3 linked regions of the Homo sapiens genome follow. The protein of the gene in region 1 purifies or fractionates together with the protein of each later gene. This does not show direct contact. Each region holds a gene or a part of one and is shown on either strand. Other genes may lie near its edges.

Region 1 (6,893 bases):
GGCAACTGAGCCCAGTGTCAGCACAGAGATTGCTAATCTGAGGACCCCAACATCTAAGAGAAGGTGCCTCAGAGGTACTGACTGGCGGCCGCTGCTAAGCCAGCTTTTGCCCAGCTCTCAGCAGGCCAGGGCGCTTTTTCTCTGCCCCATCCAGGCTCCTGGCACACATCCCTGGTCAGGGGAAGATTACCTGTTCAGCACTGCATAGGCTGAGAAGGTCAGATCAATTCTAGCCCATCTGGCCATCCACTGAGCCGCCATCCCTCAACACCTCCCTGCTCCCCGATCCAACTAAGGAGGGCAGCTGAGCCTTTGCAGAGTCAGCAGGTATGCGCCTGGGAGACCCTCAGAAGGCTGTATCCCCGGCACCTCCCTGGAAGAAGCGAGCGTGTCATTGTTTCTCTCCCTGTCACCTCTGGTCTGAGGCCAATTTGTGCCCCACCCCTGCCAAGGACAGAACTTGCCATCCAGACTGTAAGTCCCTGGAGCCCCACCATCCTGGGAGAGGCCACAACCTGCTCAGCTCCCTCAGGCATCTGGCTGCCCTCAGCCTGAATCCCATCTTTTCTCTCCTGAGGTTCTCACAATGGCTCCCCTCAGCAGGACCTCCCCACAAGGCCTCCCTCCTCTTCCCTGCACCCCGACCCCAACAGGCCCCAGTGAGCCAGACTGAGGAAAAGGGTGGTCTCACAGAGGTGTGGTCCAGTGAATACTGGTGCATTAACTGGGGCAGGCATTTCTTAGGAATTCCCTGGGACACGGCAGATTCTGTATTGAGGTGCTGGAAGCTTCCACTTCAGAAGCCCTCCATTGCTGTCTCAGATAGGTGGCAAAAGACCCCATGCTTCTCACCCCACATCCTATCTCCTGCCAGGGAGGTGACTGCTATAGAATCTTTTTTTTTTTTTTTTTGAGACAGGGTCTCACTCTGCTGCCCAGGCTGGAGTACAGAGACGTGATCACAGCACACGGCGACCTACCTACACCTCCCGGGCTCAAGCTATGCTCCTGCCTCAGCCTTCCCGAGCAGCTGGAACTACAACTACAGCTACATGCCACCATGCCTGGCTAATTTTTGTATGTTTTGTAGAGATGGGGTTTCACCATGTTGCCCAGGCTCCACAGCATTTGAAAGAGCATGGAGCCCAGAGTTGGGAGGCGTGGGATCAAGTCCTAGATTGGTCATTCCTGGCTGTGTGACTCTGGGCAAGATACTCAGATTCTCTGGGCCACCGGTTTCTTGCATGTTACAAAAGCCTGGTTACATTTCTCATATCAAGGAGATACAGAGTTGCTTCAAACTCCTCAGCCACAGGAACTGTCTTATTCATTTCTGTATCCCCAGCGTCCTGACACACAGTAGGTGCTCAGTAAACGTTGAATGGATACAAACATGACTGTGAAGAGCCTTGTAAACATCATTAACCAAAATATGTCTATATGTATATATGTTAGCACTTACTACAACAGGCCCATAAACCTTTCCAAAATGACATCAACAGGAAGTAAAACCTGTTTTGGATGTACCCATGAAGGTGATATCTACTTTTTTACTAAATATTTTACAAAATCATTCTTGCTAGCCAGAACCAGGGCAGAAACATCATTGATAAAGATGATTTCACAGGGACTAGGCCCTGAACACTGAGGTCTGAAGCCAATCACAGTAAATCATAATAGCCCCGGACCACCTTTGGAAAACCATTAAGTCGACAACTACAAAACCCTGAAGGGCCCTACCGCATCTGACTGATGCCTCTTTGTGGCCCACACTCCGGTGTCTAACTCAGAGCCAGACACTTGGTAGGCAGTGTGGTCAGGTGGAGAGGGCTTCAAGTCCGACAGGAACAGGTTTAAATTCACGGCCAGGTGTGGTGACTCACACCTGTAATCCCAACACTTTAGGAGGCAGAGGTGGGAGGATTGCTTGAGCCCAGGAGCTCAAGACCAGTCTGGGCAACATAGCGAGACCCCATCTCAAAAAAAGGAAAAGAAAAAATATATATGTAAAAGAAAAAGAAACAGGTTTAAATTCTTGATCTGCCACTTACTAGTTATTTCAATAGCATACTCCCTTGAGCCTCAGTTTTACCATCTCTGAAATGGGTTCAATCACGTGTATGAAGTGATTAAATGTAACCAAGGCGCTTAGCCCAGCGACTGCCGAATGCCAGGCGGTCACCGGGGAAGGTTAGTGAGTTCCTGGAGCACCCAGGATCCTCTTTTTTCCCAGCTGCAGGAGAGAGCTAAGCCTGAGGGGCCAGGAGGGCTGTGTTCTGCCCACACCTGCACACTTAGCTGGGAGCCTGGGACACCCAGGCTATTAGGAGGCTCAGGAGGGACTCTCAAAACTGAGGTGGGGTTGGATTCCAGAGCCGGGCAGTGGGGAAGCTGGCCTGGGGATGAAATGTCATGACCGAATTCCTGTCCCGGGAGTCACCAGATCCACAGCCCCAGGCGAGGCCTCATCCCCAGCTCGGAAGTCCTACATGGAGATCTCCAAGAAGATTCTTCCCCACGTCTCCCAGCTCCTGCCCCGGGTGGCCTAGAGCAGGCTCTCTTCCCTGTGCCCCTGGGCCCCGGCCGGGGTCCCCCGGGTGCGCGCCCTGAGCCCCTCTCCAGGCCCCGCGCTGACTCACCCCCACTCGTGGGGCCCGGCTGCGCGGGGGCCGCATGGCTGCCGGCAGGTGCCCCGAAGCCCTCGTCGTTCTCTATGCCTGCAATCTCGCTCTCCTGCTGGGCCAGGAAGGCGGCCGCCGGGTCCTCCTCCGCCGCCTCCGGGGCACCGCTCTCCGACGACGAGAAGAAGCCAAAGTCATCAGCCATTTTCCCCGCGCCTCCGCCGGAGCCTCCGCTGCGCTCGGCTCTGCCCGCGCCTGCCCCGCGCTGCGTCCGGCGGCCGCGACGCTGTCACCCGAGCCGCGGGGGAGCCGGCGTCGGCGGGGACGGGCTTGGCGCGGACCGCACTTCCTCTCCGCCACCGGGCCCGGCTGGCTGTCACTGCGGTGCGGGCGCCGCGGCGGGAGGAGCGGAGCCGGAATGCGGTGACGTCACCGCGGGGGCGGGGCCGCAGGGCCGGGAGGTCGCCGAGCAGCGGCCGCAGGAGGGCGCCTCAGGACTGGGCGCAGCGCTGGGCCCGGGACCGGCGCGGCGCTTCCCTCCCTCCGCAGCGGCGCCCAGCTGCTCGCGTCGAGGACACCTGGGCTAGGCACTGCTCCCGCCCGGCCTGGAGGCGAAACGCAGGGCACAGAGTGGCCGTACCGTGCACAGAGCTGCGACAGGAGGCCACCTCTGGCCTCGGGAGCGCAGACCTGGCTCCTGATTCATTCTGCAGAAGTTTCTTCTCCTAGGTTGGGATGTCATGCACCTCATTCTATGAGCCTCCGCCTCTGTAAGAAGAGGAAAATTGAGGCTGGGAAAGGCTGCCCCGCACCTTTTCATGCAAGTCCAGGTCCTTTCCCACTAGGCCGTGTTGTTTTGTGTATTTTTTTGTGTATCTCCCTTGAGGAGGCTTCAGTTCATACGACCAGAGTTTGGATGGCCAGCTAGGCCCCTTAAATGTCCTTTAGGTATGAACCAGCCTGAGAAAGGCAGACCTGGTTTACCCAGGCAGCCTACCACTCTCCACGCTGCCCGCTGCCCTCTGTGAACAGGCTCTGAATGCCTCCTCCCTGCCTGCGCTTTGCCAAGCACCAGGACAGCAACGTTTTATAAAATCCAGCCATGGCCATGCGGAGATTACAATCCGGTGAGACCAACAGATGGCAAATGGCCTGTCAAAGCACTGTGTGTGAGGCGCTGTGACATTTAAACACGGGGTATAGGGAGACGATGCAAAGAAACACCATGGGATTTGGGCTGTCTGCTATTTCTAATGTGGGACTTGAAAGGCAACTATGAAATATGGACTGGAAGAGCGAAAGGAAAGATGTGCCGCCAAGTTGGGGGTGGAAGTGGAGTTGGGGTGAAGGGACCTTCCAGGTGTTTTTTTTTTTTTCTTTTTAATTTTTTTATTTAGAGACAGGGCCTCGCTATATTAACTGGGCTGGTCTTGAACTGCTGGCCTCAGGGGATCCTCCTGCCTTGGTCTCCCAAAACACTGGGATTACATGTGTGAGCTACCAAGCCCAGCTGGAACTTTCAGTTTAATTGGTAACAACTTGAGCACCTTTTGATGTTACTGTTTTTGGGGGGGTTTTTATTGTTTTATTTAATTAAATTAATGTATTTATTTATTGCTGTCCATTTGCATGGTTTTGTTGTTGTTGTTTGTTTGTTTTTTGTTTTGAGACAGGATCTTACTCTTGCCCAGGCTAGAGTGTAGTGGTACGATTATAGTTCACTACAGCTTCAACTCCTGGGCTCAAGTGATCCTCTCATCCTCAGACTTCCAAAGAGCTGGGATTACAGGCATGAGCCAACACACCTGGCCTTTTTGATGTTATTGTAAGTGGAAGTTTTATCTTCTTTTTTGATTGCGTATTGTTAATGCATAGAAATTTAACTGATTTTTGTGCATTGGCTTTGTATCCTGCTGCTTTGCTGAATTCATTTATTAGCTCTAACATTTTTTGTGTGTGGAATATTTAGGGTTTTCTGCAGATAAGAGCTTATTAGCCAGGTGCCATGGCTCATACCTGTAATCCCAGCACTTTGGGAGGTGGAAGTGGGTGGATAGATTGAGCCCAGGAGTTTGAGACCAGTCTGGACAACGTGGCAAAACCCCATCACTACTAAAACTACAAAAAATTAGCCAGACATGGTGGTATGGTGCCCGTAGTCCCAGTTACTCAGGAGGCCGAGGTGAGGGAATCACCTGAGCCCGGGAAGTCAAGGTTGCAGTGAGCTATGATTGTGTCAGAGGTGTGTGAATCAGAGCAAGTCCGTCGTAAACAGGATCTGGGTAAAATGAGGCTGAAACCTACTGGGCTGCATTCCCAGACGGTTAGGGCATTCTAAATCACAGGATGAGATAGGAGGTCAGCACAAAATACAAGTCATAAAGACCTTGCTGATAACACAGTTTGCAGTGTTGGGCAAGGTGGCCCACGCCTGTAATCCCAGCACTTTGGGAGGCCAAGGTGGGCGGATTGTGAGGTCAGGAGTTTGCGACCAGCCTGGTCAATATAGTGAAACCCCGTCTCTACTAAAAATACAAAAAATTAGCTGGGCATGGTGGCAGGTGCCTGTAATCCCAGCTACTTGGGAGGCTGAGGCAGGAGAATTGCTTGAACCCGGGAGGCGGAGGTTACAGTGAGCCGAGATCTCACCACTGCACTCCAGCCTGGGTGACAGTGCAAGACTCAGTCTCAAAAAACAAACAAACCAACAAACAACAACAACAAAAACCAGGTTGCAGTAAAGGAGCCAGCCAAAACCCACCAAAACCAAAATGGTGACAAGAGTGACCTCTGGTCATCCTCACTCCCACCAGTGCCAGGACAGTTTACAAATGCCATGGCAACATCAGGAAGTTACCCTATACGGTCTAAAAAGGGAAGGCACGAATAATCCACCCCTTGTTTAGCATTTCATCAAGAAATGGCCATGAAAATATGCAACCAGCAGTCCTTGGGGCTGCTCTGTCTATGGAGTAGCCATTCTTCTATTCCTTTACTTTCTTTTTCTTTTTTTGAGGTGGAGTCTCGCTCTGTTGCCCAGGCTGGAGTGCAGTGGTGCGATCTCGGCTCACTGCAAGCTCCACCTCCCGGGTTCACGCCATTCTCCTGCCTCAGCCTCCCAAGTAGCTGGGACTACAGGAGCCTGCCACCATGCTCAGCTAATTTTTTTTTTTTTTGTATTTTTAGTAGAGACGGGGTTTCACCCTGTTAGCCAGGATGGTCTCGATCTCTTGACTTCATGATCTGTCCACCTCGGCCTGCCAAAGTGCTGGGATTACAGGCGTGAGCCACCGTGCCCGGCCCCTCCTTTACTTTCTTAATAAACTTGTTTTCGCTTTGCACCAAGGACTCACCCTGAATTCTTTCTTGCGTGAGATCCAAGAACCCTCTCTTGGGGTCTGGATTGGGACCCCTGTCCTATAACAATCACACCACTGCGCTCCAGCCTGGGCAATGAGAGTGAGACCCTGTCTCTAAATAAATAAATAGCATCTGCAAACAGAGATACTTCTTACTTTCCAATCTGGGTTGCTTTTATTTCTTTTTCTTGCCTAATTTCTCTGGCTAGGACTTCCAGTACTATGTTGAATAGAAATACCAAAAGTGGGCATCCTTCTGCACAAGTTGTCCAAATCAAACTGGAGTCACTTATGCCAAACCCTAGCAAAATGGACTCAGGAGGCCATAAATGAGGGGCTCCCATGCACACATGCCTATGATAGAAAATATTACAAGGACTGTCTGAGGCTGGGCACGGTGGCTCATGCCTGTAATCCCAACACTTTGGGATGCTGAGATGGGCGGATCACCTGAGGTCTGGAGTTCAAGACCAACCTAACATGATGAAACCCCGTCTCTACTAAAAATACAAAATTAGCTGGGTGTGGTGGCACACACCTGTAATCCCAGCTACTCAGGAGGCTAAGGCAGAAGAATTGCTTGAACCTGGGAGGCAGAGGTTGCAGTGAGCCGAGATTGCCCCATTGTACTCCAGCCTGGGCAACAAGAGCAAAACTCCGTCTCAAGAAAAAAAAAAAAACCCAACAACAACAACAACAAAAAACAAGGATTGTCTGAAACCACAATCTTGCACAAAGGCCGTCACACCCATGCACGAAGAATATTTCTGCAATGACACCTGCCCAGCAATTGCCTGTTCAATCTTGGAATAATGCTACCCTTGTTATCAATCCTTGTAGCCAAGGATAATTTTTTCAAAACAACTTACGTAGCCTTCCTCATTTTGCCTTTAAAACCCCTTTCCTTCCTTTT
Region 2 (7,026 bases), on another chromosome or scaffold:
AGAAACCTGTCATTTCAAGTAATTTTTTGTCTTTTAGGAATTTTTCTTTATAGTGAAAGCTTAGTTTATGTGCACCTTTTAATGCCCCTAGCAACTGATGCTTATTTATATGAATCTAATGAAAATGATTTCATTTTAAAATGGCAGCATTTAACAAAAAATATGCTTAGGACTGTTGTTTTTCGTATAAGCCCTTAGAGTGTGGAGGTGGTTTCTGTCAGTTTCTCGCCAAGATCTTTCCACATTAGGAAGTGATTATTAATAATTCATGAATTATGGCTTAATTCATACTACATTATATACTTACTGAAGAAAGATTTTTTTGCTTTGCTTATACTGTAGGTGTTAGTGGATAATAGTGTTGACTAGCATCCCTAGTGTGAAAGAGTTGTCAAACTTGAAATATGTTTGTAAAAATAAACACGATTTCCGTTTAATCTTAGGCCTTTAGTAGCCATAATCAAGGTAGAGGAATAGCAGCCCTTATATTTGAAGAACTTCAGTTTTCCAGGCACTTTCTCATCATCTCATTTAATCCTGTCTCACAGCTGGAGGTGGGGGCAATTCATATACATAGAAAGTAGCTTCTAATTCCATTTAGCAGTACAGAATGCTTAAAAGAACCATAATTATTGCAGGATAGAAAAAACAAATTTTTTTTTTTTTTGAGACGGAGTCTCGCTCTGTCGCCAGGCTGGAGTGCAGTGGTGCGATCTTGGCTCACTGCAACCTCTGCCTCCCAGGTTCAAGAGATTCTGCCTCAGCCTCTTGAGTAGCTGTGACTACAGGCGCATGCCACCACACCCAGCTAATTTTTGTATTTTTAGTAGAGATGGGGTTTCACCATGTTGGCCAGGATGGTCTGGATCTCTTGACCACATGATTCGCCCGCCTCGGCCTCCCAAAGGGCTGGGATTACAGACGTGTGAGCCACTGTGCCTGGCCCACAATTTTTAATTTATAACTTCTTAATATAAAAATCATTTTTATCTGATCTTACAATCTTTAGTCTTAACCCCACCCCTTTTTTTGGATACAGGGTCTTGCTCTGTCTCTGGTGTGCAGTGGCAGGATCATGGCTCACTGCAGCCTTATCCTCCTCAGGCTCAAGAAATCCTCCCACATCAGTCTCCCAAGTAGCTGGGACTATAGGCATGTGCCACCACGCCTGGTTAATTAAAGAAACTTTTTATTTTTGGAGAGATGGGGGTCTCCCTATGTGGCCCAGGCTGGTCTTGAACTCCTGGGCTCAAGTAATCCTCTTGCCTCAGCCTCCCAGAGTGCTGGGATTACAGGTGTGAGCCAGCATGCCTGGCCCTTATCCTATTTTTTGATATGAATTCTTAATTTTCTTTATTCTTATTTACTATCGTTGGACATTTATATTTTGACATATTTCACTGAAATGTAATATTTATACTAATGGCTGTAATGTCTCCTTTTTTTTTTTTTTTTTTAAAATGAGGTGGGTCTTACTCTGTTGCCCAGGCTGGAGTGCAGTGGTGGAATCACATCTCACTGCAGCCTTGACTTCCCGGGTTCAGACAATCTTTCTGAGTACCTGGGACCACAGGCATCTGCTACCACGCACAGCTAATTTTTAATTTTTATACAGACAGGGTCTCCTTGTGTTGCTCGGGCAGGTCTCAAACTCCTGGGCTCAAGGATCCTCTCTACCAGCTGAGCCTCCTAAAGTGCTGGGATTATAGGTGTGAGTCACCATATCCTGTATGTCTCTGTTTTTTAATTCATATTTTCCCCAGTTAATTTACAGGGACATTTCATTTCAACCACTGCCTTATCTTTTCTAAAACAAAATCAAGATCAAGTTCTTACTAAGCATCCATTATCAACATATCTCTGGTCGATACAGCATGGTTATTTGTATGTTGTGAACTGGATCTAGAAATTGGAAATAAGTTTTTAAAAAGTAGGATTTGAATATTTTGCATATGTAGAATTTGTATTTGGGCTAGTGGTTTGTGTAACTACATTAAAAATGCGTATAACATACCAGACTGTACCTGAATTAATTCCCTTTTAAAGCACAAATGGTTTTTAATGTCTCAGTTAATAATATCTTATGGGTGCTTAGTTTGCGTATTGTCAAGAAGGATCTGGTAACTAGGATGTGATTTCTAAGAAGATGCATGTAAGGAAGAAATAAAGTAGAAGATCTGTCCCAGGATATCTTTTATTTAAAAGTAAGGTAACTGGGACTTTTTTTTTTTCCAAAAGGATCTTGTTTTAAGAAGACAGTTATTTTGTAATTAATGTCTGGGCTTCCTATTCTTTCCTGTAAGAATTAGTCATATGATTTATATTTTCATTTTTCATTATCCTTACTAGTCTTTTAGTAGTTTTGCAATACAGAAAATAGAAATAGAGTTATCAAAGTGGTAGTAATGAGTAAGATTTGATCACACATGTCAAATGCCTGAGGCATTTTATTTATTTTTATTTTTTCTGTCGCCATGGCAGAACAGAATGCCTGAGGTATATAATAAAATTCACAAATGTATCCTTTTTCCTCCCAGATATGTCTAGTTAAGTTTCTGAACAGTATGTGTTTTAAAAGAGGAACTCTAAAGAGAACTTAATATTCAACTATTTTTTGTAGCCGCTTATTCATAATTAGCAAATGAATTCTGAAATACTTTTGTAATTATTGTTCCCTGATGGATTTATTTGCTATGTTAAGAAATAGTATAAGACTTTGGGCATCTATATACCTTTTGTGTTTACTGAATATTTTATATATCTGGATAATTTTTAAAGGTGTCTTTGAATTTAAAGTTACTATGGCAGGTGAGAAGTGAAACACTTCATAAGATGTGATTGACATTTTTCTTTCATACGCTTTGTGAGACATTTATATGAAACATTTACTTTGATGTTTAAAAAACACTGATTGTTTAAAAATAATCTATTTTAATAATCAGAATTGCTTTCATTTAAAAATATTTGTTTATTTGGCCATGATAATCATTTAGAATAGTTAATGTGAAAGTTCACCGTAGACATAGTTGTTTCTCCTTTGTTTTCTTCAGCTCTGAAATGGTTAATTTCATGGTTTCTCACTTAAAATAAAGAAGTAAGAAAAATAAACTTACAGGCTTCTTGGCAAGAGGTTAGAGCCCTACCAGGAAGAAGTAGCCTTAGACTTTCAAAGTAAAGTCTTAGTATTTGCTCTTCCTGTTCTTTTGGTAGCTAAAGTGGCATTTCCGTTACTTTGTGTTCTGTCTTAGTATGTTCCCAGTTAAACTGCTTTATACGTTTCTCTAGAGAATCAAAATTTTGGACTTGACCTTTTAGTATTTTGTATGTTCACTGTGTATGTGAATCATTTTGGGCAGTTAGATAGTTCTTTAAAAGAGAATCTTGATGAACCTAAGCCTTTGTATTAAAAATTATGTTCAGAGTTGTGATTTGTTAGATTATCAGAAAATGAAGGATTTCTCAAGTTATATTATTATCAAGATATATTATATCCCCCACGAAAGTGGTACATTTGTTAAAATTGATGGACCTACATTCAGACATCTTTACCACCCAAAGTCCATGGTTTACATTAGGGTTTTTTTTTTTTTGAGACGGAGTTTCGCTCTTGTTGCCCAGGCTGGAGTGCAGTGGTGCGATCTCAGCTAACTGCAACCTTTGCCTCCTGGGTTCAAGGGATTCTCCTGCCTCAGCCTCCCAAATACCTGGGATTACAGGTGCCCACCACCACGCCCAGCTAAATTTTTGTATTTTTGATAGAGATGGGGCTTCACCATGTTGGCCAGGCTGGTCTCGAGCTCCTGACCTCAGGTGATCCACCCACCTCGGCCTCCCAAAGTGTTGGGATTACAGGCGTGAGCCACTGCGCCCGGCCAAGGTTTACTCTTGCTGTTTGTATGTTCTATGGGTTTGGCCAATTGTATGGCACATATCCACTGTTGTAGCGGTACAATGTTTATCTGCCCTGAAATACTCTGTGCTCCCCCTCGCCATCCCTTCTCTTCCCCAGCCACTGGCAACCACTATTTTTTGTTAACTGTCTCCATAGTTTTGCCTTTTCAAGATGTCATAGTTGGAATCATACAGTCTATAGCCTTTTCAGATTTTCTTTTTTCACGTACTAATATGCGTTTACGATTTCCTCAATGGCTTTTCACGGTTTGACAGCTTTTTTTTTTCTTTTGCACTTGACTATTCTATTATCTGGATATACCCGGGTTTATTTGTCCATTTACTTACTGAAGGACATCTTGGTTGCTCCCTAGTTTTGGCAATCGTGAATAAAGCTGCTATAAACATCAAACATCTGTGTGCGTGTCTTTTGTGTGGACATAAGTTTTCAGTTCGTTTGGGTAAATAGCAAGGAACACAGTTGCTGGATCATATGGTAAGAATACCTTTAGTTTTGCAAGAAACCTCTAAACTGTCTTTCAAAGTGATGGTACCATTTTATATTCCCACCAGTAATGAATGGGAGTTTCTGTTCACATTCTCACCAGCATTTGATATTGTCACTGTTAATGGGTTTTGGCCATTCTAATAGGTGTGTAGTGGTATTGTTTTAATTTGCATTTTCCTGATTATGTGACTTTTTTTCATATGCATACTCGCCATCTTTATATCTTCTTTAGTGAGGTGTCCGTTAAGGTCATTGTCCTGTTCTTAAAGTCAGGTTCTTTGTTTTCTTATTGTTGAGGTTTGAGAGTTGTTTATTTTGAATAACAGTCCTTTATCAAATGTGTCTTTTCTTTTCTTTTTTTTTTTTTTTTTTTTTTTTTGAGATGGAGTCTTGCTCTGTCTCCCGGGCTGGAGTGCAATGGGGCCATCTCATCTCACTGTAAGCTCTGTCTCCCAGGGGTTCAAGTGATTCTTCTGCCTCAGCCTCGCAAGTAGCTGGGATTACAGGTGTCTACCATCATGCCTGGCTAATTTTTGTATTTTTAGTAGAGATGGCGTTTGACCATATTAGCCAGGCTGGTCTTGAACTCCTCATCTCAGGTGATCCGCCTGCTTCAGCCTCCCAAAGTGTTGGGATTACAGGCATGAGCCACTGAGCCCGGCTATCAAATGTATCTTTTGCAAATATTTTCTCCCAGTCTGTGCCTTGTCTTTTTCATTCTCTTGACAATGCCTTTCACAGAGCAGAAAATTTTAATCTTAATGAAGTCCAGTTTAGCAGTTCTTTCTTTCATGGGTCATGCCTTCATCATTGTATTTAAAAAGTCATCAACAAACTCAAGGTCATCTAGATTGTCTTCTATGTCACCATTTGGGAGCTTTATAATTTTGCATTTTACATTTAGGTCTGTGATCCATTTTGAGTTAATTTTTGTGAGTGTAATGTCTGTCTCCTGATTCATTTTTTTTTTTTTTGCCTGTGGATATCTAGTTGTGCAGTACTATTTGTTGAAAAGATTATCTTTGCTGCATTGTATTGCCTTTCTCCTTTGCTGGCAGTGGTTCTTAAGGTGTGGTCTGGGGACTTTTGGGGGTCCTCAAGACCATTTCAGCAAGTTTGTGAGTTCAAAACTGTTTTCATATACTAAGACATTATTTGCCTTTTCTATTTTTATTCTTTCAAGAACCACTGTACAGTGGAGTTTTCTAGAGGCTGTGTGATGTGTGTGTGATATTGCCATAGGTTGAATGTAGTAGCAGATAATGATAATTCAACTATTTCCTATTAAACCACAAAATAGAGTTTTGCCAAAATGTGAAACAGTGCCACTCTTCTAAATTGTGGGGTTTTTTGAAAATACTGTTATTTTTCAAATGAATTAATGTTGATAAATTTATCAGTTTCAGTTTCTAACAGTAAATATTGGTAGAGAACCCCCACATGAAAGCTCTTGGCTCCTCAATTTTAAAAGTGTGAAGGTTCTGAGACTAAAAAAATGCACCTTTAGGGATGAGTGTGTATTAGAAGGGACAAAAGAGTACTCAAAGAGGAACTAGATCTAAGGGATCCTTTGAATTCTCAAAGTAATTTTGGATTTGATTTTGTAGGTAACAGTGCCTCAACTTTTGGAAGATTTCAAGCAAGAGATGTGGTATCATAATCCCTATGTCCACTTTATGTCCATAAATAGATTGGAAGGAGTGTTCAGTATGACTTGGAAAGGAAACTGCTGGGGCAAAAAAGTCTTAACAATAATATTTAAATTTTTTTCCCAAAGGCCTTAAAAATTAGTTATTAATTGGAACTCTTGATTATTTGTCCTCTCTCTTTTTTTTTTTTATGTCAAAACTATCCTTTTTTGTGAAAGTTAGGCAGGTTAGGTATCAATTGTGCCAAAAGTTCTTGACTACCAAACCGTTAGCCTTTGCACATATGATTCCTTGGACTAAAGACAGGGTCTGGCTCTGTCACCCAAGCTGGAGTGTAGTGTCATGATCATGGCTTACTGTAACTCTGAACTCTTGGGCTCAAGGGATTCTCTTGCCTCAGCCTCCTGAGTAGGTAGGACTACAGGTGTGTGCCACCATGCCCTGCTAAAGAGAAAGGGGTCTCTTTCCTAGGCTGGTCTCGAACTTCTGGCCTTGGCCTCCCAAAGTGCTGGGATTATAAGTGTGAGCCACCATGCTCGGCCTCTTTTAAACTGTCTTTACCTTGCTCCCATTAATATTCACATTTAAGGTAACCGCTTTCATAAAAACATCACTGAATAACTCCCCCTGGTCCTGTCAGTCCAGCATTATTCTCACCATTTATAGAGTTTCAAATATTGTTAAACTGTAGTGGCTATCTTGCTTTTATGTATTTTGGGTTTATGCACATTTCCTCCACAGAATAGGAATTGTTTTCGGTATTGTTCTCTATCTCTTCTCCAAGTACCTAGTCAGCAACCCCCCATGGGTGCTCAGTAAATATTGAATGATTATACTTAACCTCCCTTCATAGCTCAGACTATTCCATGAACAATTTATGGACATAAAAATCTATGCCAGTAGACATTTAAGGATATTTTTTATGGTGACTATGGAAATTGCCTGGTTACAAATTTATATATAGAGTCAGTAACATTG
Region 3 (7,026 bases), on another chromosome or scaffold:
AATTCACAGAAAAAAATATATAAACAAATAGGACTTGTTTGGCCAGGCACGGTGGCCACGCCTATAATCCCAGCACTTGGGGGGACTGAGGCGGGTGGATCACTTGAGGTCAGGAGCTCGAGACCAGCCTAGTCAACATGGTGTAACCCCAACTCTACTAAAAATACAAAAATTAGCAGGGCATGGTGGCATGCACCTGTAGTCCCAGCTACTCGGGAAGCTGAGCCAGGAGAATCACTTGAACCTGGGAGGTGGAGGTTGCAGTGTGCCGAGATCACGCCACTGCACTCCAGAGCCTGGGTGACAGAGCGAGACCCTGTTTCAAAAAAACAAACAAAAACAAACAAACAAATAGGACTTGTTTAATTTTAAGTTTTTCTATGCAATGTATTTTAACTTTCAGCCCTTACTATCAGTTATTCCTTTGTTTTTTAGACACAGGGTCTCATTCTGTAGCCTTGGCTGGAGTACAAGGGCCTTATCATCATAGCTCATTGCAGCCTCAAACTCCTGGGCTTGAGATCCTCCTACTGCAGCTTCTTGAGTAGCTGGGACTACAGAATAGCTGTAGTCCCAGCGTGCATCACCACACACAGCTATTTTTTTTTTCTATAGACACGGGTCTCCCTACATTCCCCAGATTGGTCTCGAATTCTTGGCCTCAAGCAATCCTCCCACCTCGGCCTCCCAAAGCACTGGGTTTACAGGCATGAGCCACCAAACCCACCATTCTACCAGTTGTTTCTATTATAATCTAGCACAGATTGTCATCTAATGTAACACAAAGTAGTATACTTAATATATTTAACGTACTGAAAAAATTAGTATATCAACATTTCATCCTGTTTTATAAGAGCACCATGACTTTCAGGTATTCTACTTCCTGAATTGGTTTGAAAATGTATGTCCAAAATACAAAACCTTAAAAAAAAAAAAAAAGTCCACTTCCTCTTCCACATGGCAACTTCCCAAATTTTAACTATTATTTATGAAAGGATCTAGTCTAGCCAACTTTATTTCATAGATAAAGAAACTCAGATTCAGTGATTTAACTCCAATTAATATTCTCTTCTTCAGACAAAATGCCTCCAACAGTTCCTCAAATGGCATACGTTCTAGATCCTGAAAACTACAGTCTTCTCTTTTCAAGACATACTCTAGGCTGGGCACAATGGCTTACACCACAGGGAGACCTCATCTTCACAAAACCCAAAAAAATTAGCTGGGTGTGGTGGCGTGTACCTATAGTCCCAGCCACTCAGGAGGCTGCATTAGAAGAATCACTTGAGTATGGGAGGTAGAGGCTACAGTGAGCCGTGATCGCACTGCTGCACTCCACCCTAGGTAAAACAGTGTGAGACCCTGTCTTAAAAAAAAAAAAAAAAAAGACAAACTTCAGTTTCCTTACTGGTGGCCCCTCTTAGGATATACTCAAACAAAATTATTAGATGGGGTTTGATTAGAGTATAATGGAATGATGAACACTTCCTCAGCCATGCTGCAGTTAGACTGCCTTAAGACTGGCAAGTAGCCTAAGCCATGTCAGTTCAGATAGCATGCTATCAGTAAAGCTGTTGATATGCTACACTGTAGTAATCTAGCTCCACTCTCTGATTGATCCCCTGATCAAGTCATATTATTGCTTACCCAGTTTCTGACTCATATCTCTCATAATCCATTTGCTTACTACTTTAATCCTTCCCCTATATTTTTTAACTAAGATCTAGGAACTTGTTTCTGCTAAAACTAATCCTGTTTGGCAGCCTAGTTAATTAATTCCTAGAGTTTGAGCAACTAGCAGCTCTCTGTAACACCTATGTGACTTGATTACCCAGATCTTGCTAGGCAAACTTCTTCCTATCTTTAGGAAACCACCCATCCTCATTATTCCTCCAAGATACTTTCTGAAAGCACCCCAAATAAGGAAAATATCAAGATGGTACTGTGACAAATATTTTAAATACATAAGAAAAAATAAATGTAGGGAGACTTACATGGGTGTCACACCCCTGCCCCACCAAAGGAAAGGGTGGAGAACACATGTGTTGAACTAGGAGTGACCAATCTAAACTAAAAAGGTCAAGCAGGGGCAGGAAGTTGAGTTTCGCAATGAAAGCATTAACAACCTGTGCTTTGGGTTTTGAGCTGAAAAGAAACTGTTCCCAGGGTACTCTATTTTCACATTTGCTATTTGTCTTGTCATTTTCCCAACTTTATAGGCTCCTGAGTATGAATAAACTTTAAAATAACCTAGTCAAGAGGTCCCAAATGGAGGTCCAAGGGGGAAAGTTTTGAAAAAACTGGTTATCTTCCCCCTGAAATTCCATACTGTCCTTTGACACCCCTTCCTCCAAATCAGGACTGAGTAGGCCTAAACTCTCTAGGATACTGTGACATATAACTAAATTTGGGAAGCCATTTGAACCATATTTGAATATCTCCTATGACAGGGAACTTACTCCTTCCAAAATAGCATGTTGTATCACTGGAGTTTGAAAAAGGGAGGGCTGGCAGACCTTGGTGGCTCACGCCTGTAATCCCAGCACGTTGGAAGGCTGAGGCAGGCAGATCACCTGAGGTCGGGAGTTTGAGACCAATCTGACCAACATGGAGAAACCGCGTCTCTACTAAAAATACAAAATTAGCCGGTCGTGGTGGTGCATGACTGTAATCCCAGCTACTCGGGAGGCTGAGGCAATAGAATCGCTTGAACCCAGCAGGCAGAGGTTGCGGTGAGCTGAGATCACGCAATTGCACTCCAGCCTGGGCAACAAGAGAGAAACTGTCTCAAAAAAGTGAAAAAAAAAAAAAAAAAAAAAAAAAAGGGAGGGCTTTTAGAGTCAGATGGGTTTGAATGTCAGAACTTTGCTGCTTGCAAAGAGTTCTGCAGCCCTCTCCTTGACCTCCAACTTGTTATCATGAAAATTTTCAAATATACACAAAGTAAATAATAGAATAAACACCCAGGTATCCATCATCGGCTTCAACAATTATCAACATATAGCCAATCTTGTTTCATCTATAAGCCCTCCAAACCCCAATACCTCACTTGATTTTACTACATTTTAAATTCTACAGTATACATCTCTAAATATAAGATTCATTTAATTAATTGCAATACCATTATTACACCAAAATATTAACAGTAATTCCTTTTAACTTCTTTACATCTCAGTTTCCTCAACTGTAAAATAGGGATGGGTCATACTCTGGCCTCATAGGATTCTTGTGAGCTTTCTGTCTCAGTGATTAAAAAAAAAATGCAGAAGAGTCCTTTGGCTTTGGCAACATATTGGTAAAAATAATAATAAATAAAGAGTTCGGTTTGAGTATGTACAACATAGATAAAAAGCATGTAAGTTCTTGGGTTCCGAATCCCAGTCTTGGAGCTTTGGACAGTAAATAACCCACCTACCCAGAAACCTCAACTTGCTTAAGATGATGACTACATTGCATCTGGAATGGTAATATCAGCTTAGCTGGGATAATCTATTTCTCTCAGTAGGTAAATGACTTTTCAATAATGGGAAGTTCAGAATTTAAGATATAATTAAATTAATCAAGGTAATTTATAAACATCTGTATTAACTTCAAGACAATCTATTGTAGCTACAATGCATTCATTGTGGGGCTCTGCCTTCTACCAGTGCAAGGCTTGAGCCTAAGCGCAGCTCCCTACAAGACAAGGGGCTTCCTTTTCTTTGATAGCAAGACTAACTTATCAGAGCCCCAATGTCTGTCTCCAGGTTCAAGGCAGTTGCCCTTCCCAAACAACTATAAACAGCTGACATCTTAAATCCAGACTACATCTCAAATCCTGACTCCAGGCACTAAACACAGAATTCATTTCTCTCATGAGAAACCTATAAAATAGAGACCCACAGCTGGGGAGTCATCTGCCTATTAGAAATTGACCCGAATATGAATCCAGCAGTGACCTGGGCCCTGCAGGATGGGAAAATTAGGGGGACCAGTGCCTTCCCCCCAACTGCCCCTTTTTTTTTGAGATAGAGTCTTGCTCTGTCGCCCAGGCTGGAGTACAGTGGTACAATCATGGGTCACAGCAGTCTCAACCTCCTGGTCTCACACGATCCTCCCACCTCAGCCTCCCAAGTAGCTGGGACCACAGGAGTATGCCATCACGCCCAGCTAATTTTTTTGTAATTGTGTTAGAGACAGGTTCTCATTATGTTGCCCAGGCTGGTCTCAAACTCCTGGGCTCAAGTGATTCTCCCACCGTAGTCTTCCAAAGTGCTGGGATTATAAACATGAGCCATCATGCTGTCTAAACCTTCTTAACACCGATTTCTCTTCCTTCCAGACATCCAAAATGTTTTTTTTTTAAGTCAACAATTTGGCCGGGCATGGTGGCTCACGCCTGTAATCCCAGCATACTGGGAGGCCAAGGTGGGCTGATCACCTGAGGTCGGGAGTTCGAGACCAGCCTGACTAACATGGAGAAACCCGGTTTCTACTAAAAATACAAAACCAGCCAGTGTAGTGGCACATGCCTGTAATCCCAGCTACTTAGGAAGCTGAGGCAGGAGAATCGCTTGAACCTGGGAGGTGGAGGTTGCAGTGAGCCAAGACTGCACCACTGCACTCCACCCTGGGCAACAAGAGCAAAACTTCATCTCAAAATAATAATAGTAATAAATAAAGTCAACAATTCAACATAAACCGATCCAAATCATGCAAAATCCATCCCTCCCTTCCCCATCTAAATGCTAGTTAACTCCCAATGATAAAATAGTAGGTAAGTGCTGATCTAATTAGCTGAATATTAATTCACGTTAAAGTGAGAATGAGGCTTAAACATTCCCAGGATACACAGATATAAAAGCAAAACACAAATCTGCAATGGTAATATTTCATTCTTCACTTTTATCGACAAAAGTGTTTAAAGGGAGAGTCCTTTAAATTGCTCTTCTCTCTGGGGTTATTTATTCATTGATTCATGGTTAAAAACAACAAAACAAAATGCGTGAGAATTTCTATAATGGGGCTAAAAACCAAAATTTCTTATTTGCATTTAAAAAAAAACAGGAATAAGGAAGAGAAAGAAGGGAGCATATGTAATGAGGAGACATGGACAGACAAATTTAAAATATCTTAAATGCCTCTCAGTGACAGCCAGTTCCTTCATTAGAGGCTTTTTATTTACAATCCTAGAAAAATATTAATAGCAAGCAATTTTTCAATTGGCCTAATCACATTTCATCCTTTGCCACACAAGCAAAGAATCAAAGCACACTTGAGAGCAAAGAAAAACAAAATTCAAAGTGAAAAATATTTTTTTTTCTTAACAAATTATGGGCTGGGCGCAGTGGCTCACGCCTGTAATCTCAGCACTTTGGGAGGCTGAGACGGGTGGATCACGAGGTCAGGAGATCGAGACCATTCTTGCTAACACAGTGAAACCCCGTCTCTATTAAAAATACACAAAATTAGCCGGGTGTGGTGGCGGGTGCCTGTAGTCCCAGCCACTCGGGAGGCTGAGGCAGGAGAAGGGTGTGAACCTGGGAGGCGGAGCTTGCAGTGAGCCGAAATCACGCCACTGCACTCCAGCCTGGGCGACAGAGCGAGACTCCTTCTTAAAAACAAAAACAAAAACAAAAAAACACAAATTATGTACACAAATATGAACTCTGTGTTATACTAAGTTTGAGAAGTTAGTAAGAAAAGACTATACCTGAGATATATGGCCCTGGGCTTTTGCAAGCTGAGTTGTTCGAATATTTAAAGACTGGCTTCTTGTAACAGTTGCCACAGAAAGGGATTTTCCATTCACCTTTCTTTCAAGATGACAATTTGCTGTCGATCTCTCTTCAAGAAGAACAGCATCCCAAGGATCCTTTGCTAGCAAACTTGAAACATTTTTCTCTTCCTCATGGTCTAATACCTCCACATTATCCACCTTAGGCTTACTTAGAGGATCCAAGTCTAACCAGTCAAATTTACTGATATCCTCAGACTTTGGAGATACCTGTAGATTGCTGACTTTTGAATCTGTTATCTCCAAATCAGTCCTTGCTTTCCCATTTTTTAAAAATTCTGATGTACTAGCTATTTTGTCAAATAGTTTTGCCATGTCAGTACTGACTACTGGACGATAGATAGGTAAGCTTCCTTGTGGATGAAAGGGTGTGGCAGGTGTCAAAGGATATGAGAAATATGGAGATTGTCCCGGAAGACTTAAATATATAGGTTCTGTAGATGGAAAAGTGGGCATTCTTGGATTGAAGCCATTTTGGAATGCAGCCTGTTTACTGTAAGTAGAAGGATAAATAGAAGGTAAAGCATAAGTGGAAGGCCCAGGTAATCCAGGTGGCCACTGTCCTCTCTGAATAGTAGGTCTAAAATAGAGCTGTGCTGAAAAGGAAGGGCTCAGAATAGGAGTAACTGGTAATACAGGTGTTTTTTTAGTCTCGAAACTGTCATCCAGCAATAGTTTCTCAAGTTCAGCTTGGGTGAGCTTTTCTACATCAATATCTAATGCTCTTTTTTGGGAATCTGATTCAGGAAACACCATGAGATCATAATCCTGCTTGTTATAAACCTGTGCTTTTTTTCTGGTGCTGCTTGACAACTCAAAGCCTCTCTGATTGTCAGTCACTTGTCTATCCTTTTGCAGTTTTGCTAAAGCCTCTGCTTCCATCTGTAATGCTTCTTCTTTGTCCACATCTTTTGCTCTTGTTGGTTCCGGATGTGAAGATGGACATTCTTTAAATCCGCTGTTGCTAGATATCTGAGCCATGTCCACTAAAAAGACCAAACCTTCCTTCCTCTATTTTTTTCTTGTAGCTTCCAAAATAGCAAGGCCTATACATAAAAATAAACATAACACTCAATTAGATTTCTAAACATAAATATATTTTGTTTGCAACCTACCCCATATGACTTTGGACTTTAAGCCACTTAGAAAAATATACTACAAAATAAACAAAATAAAACAGATAAAATCTGGGTGAAGGAACACTTAACACCTTATACACTGTTGGGTTACAGAAGATGTTCAGATACACA

Evidence for each region. Proteins that work in one complex are often made in the same cells at the same time.
Region 2: the proteins of CLTB (region 1) and PICALM purify together in Homo sapiens (affinity purification with mass spectrometry; 2 studies listed by BioGRID and IntAct, with this or other methods). This does not show direct contact.
Region 3: the proteins of CLTB (region 1) and PIK3C2A purify together in Homo sapiens (affinity purification with mass spectrometry; 2 studies listed by BioGRID and IntAct, with this or other methods). This does not show direct contact.

The regions. Positions count from the first base shown.
Region 1 is NC_000005.10:176,413,538-176,420,430, forward strand, and holds the start of CLTB (clathrin light chain B), read right to left. Parts: upstream 3,003-6,893; 5' UTR 2,827-3,002; coding exon 2,640-2,826; intron 1,527-2,639; exon of another isoform or gene 1,201-1,526; coding exon of another isoform or gene 916-1,200; intron 1-915. Other genes in the region: ARL10 (ADP-ribosylation factor-like protein 10), read left to right, coding at 916-1,200. UniProt on the Homo sapiens protein: Clathrin is the major protein of the polyhedral coat of coated pits and vesicles.
Region 2 is NC_000011.10:86,059,083-86,066,108, reverse strand, and holds part of PICALM (phosphatidylinositol-binding clathrin assembly protein), read left to right. Parts: intron 1-2,232; exon of another isoform or gene 2,233-7,026. UniProt on the Homo sapiens protein: Cytoplasmic adapter protein that plays a critical role in clathrin-mediated endocytosis which is important in processes such as internalization of cell receptors, synaptic transmission or removal of apoptotic cells.
Region 3 is NC_000011.10:17,162,985-17,170,010, forward strand, and holds part of PIK3C2A (phosphatidylinositol 4-phosphate 3-kinase C2 domain-containing subunit alpha), read right to left. Parts: intron 6,823-7,026; 5' UTR 6,758-6,822; coding exon 5,693-6,757; intron 1-5,692.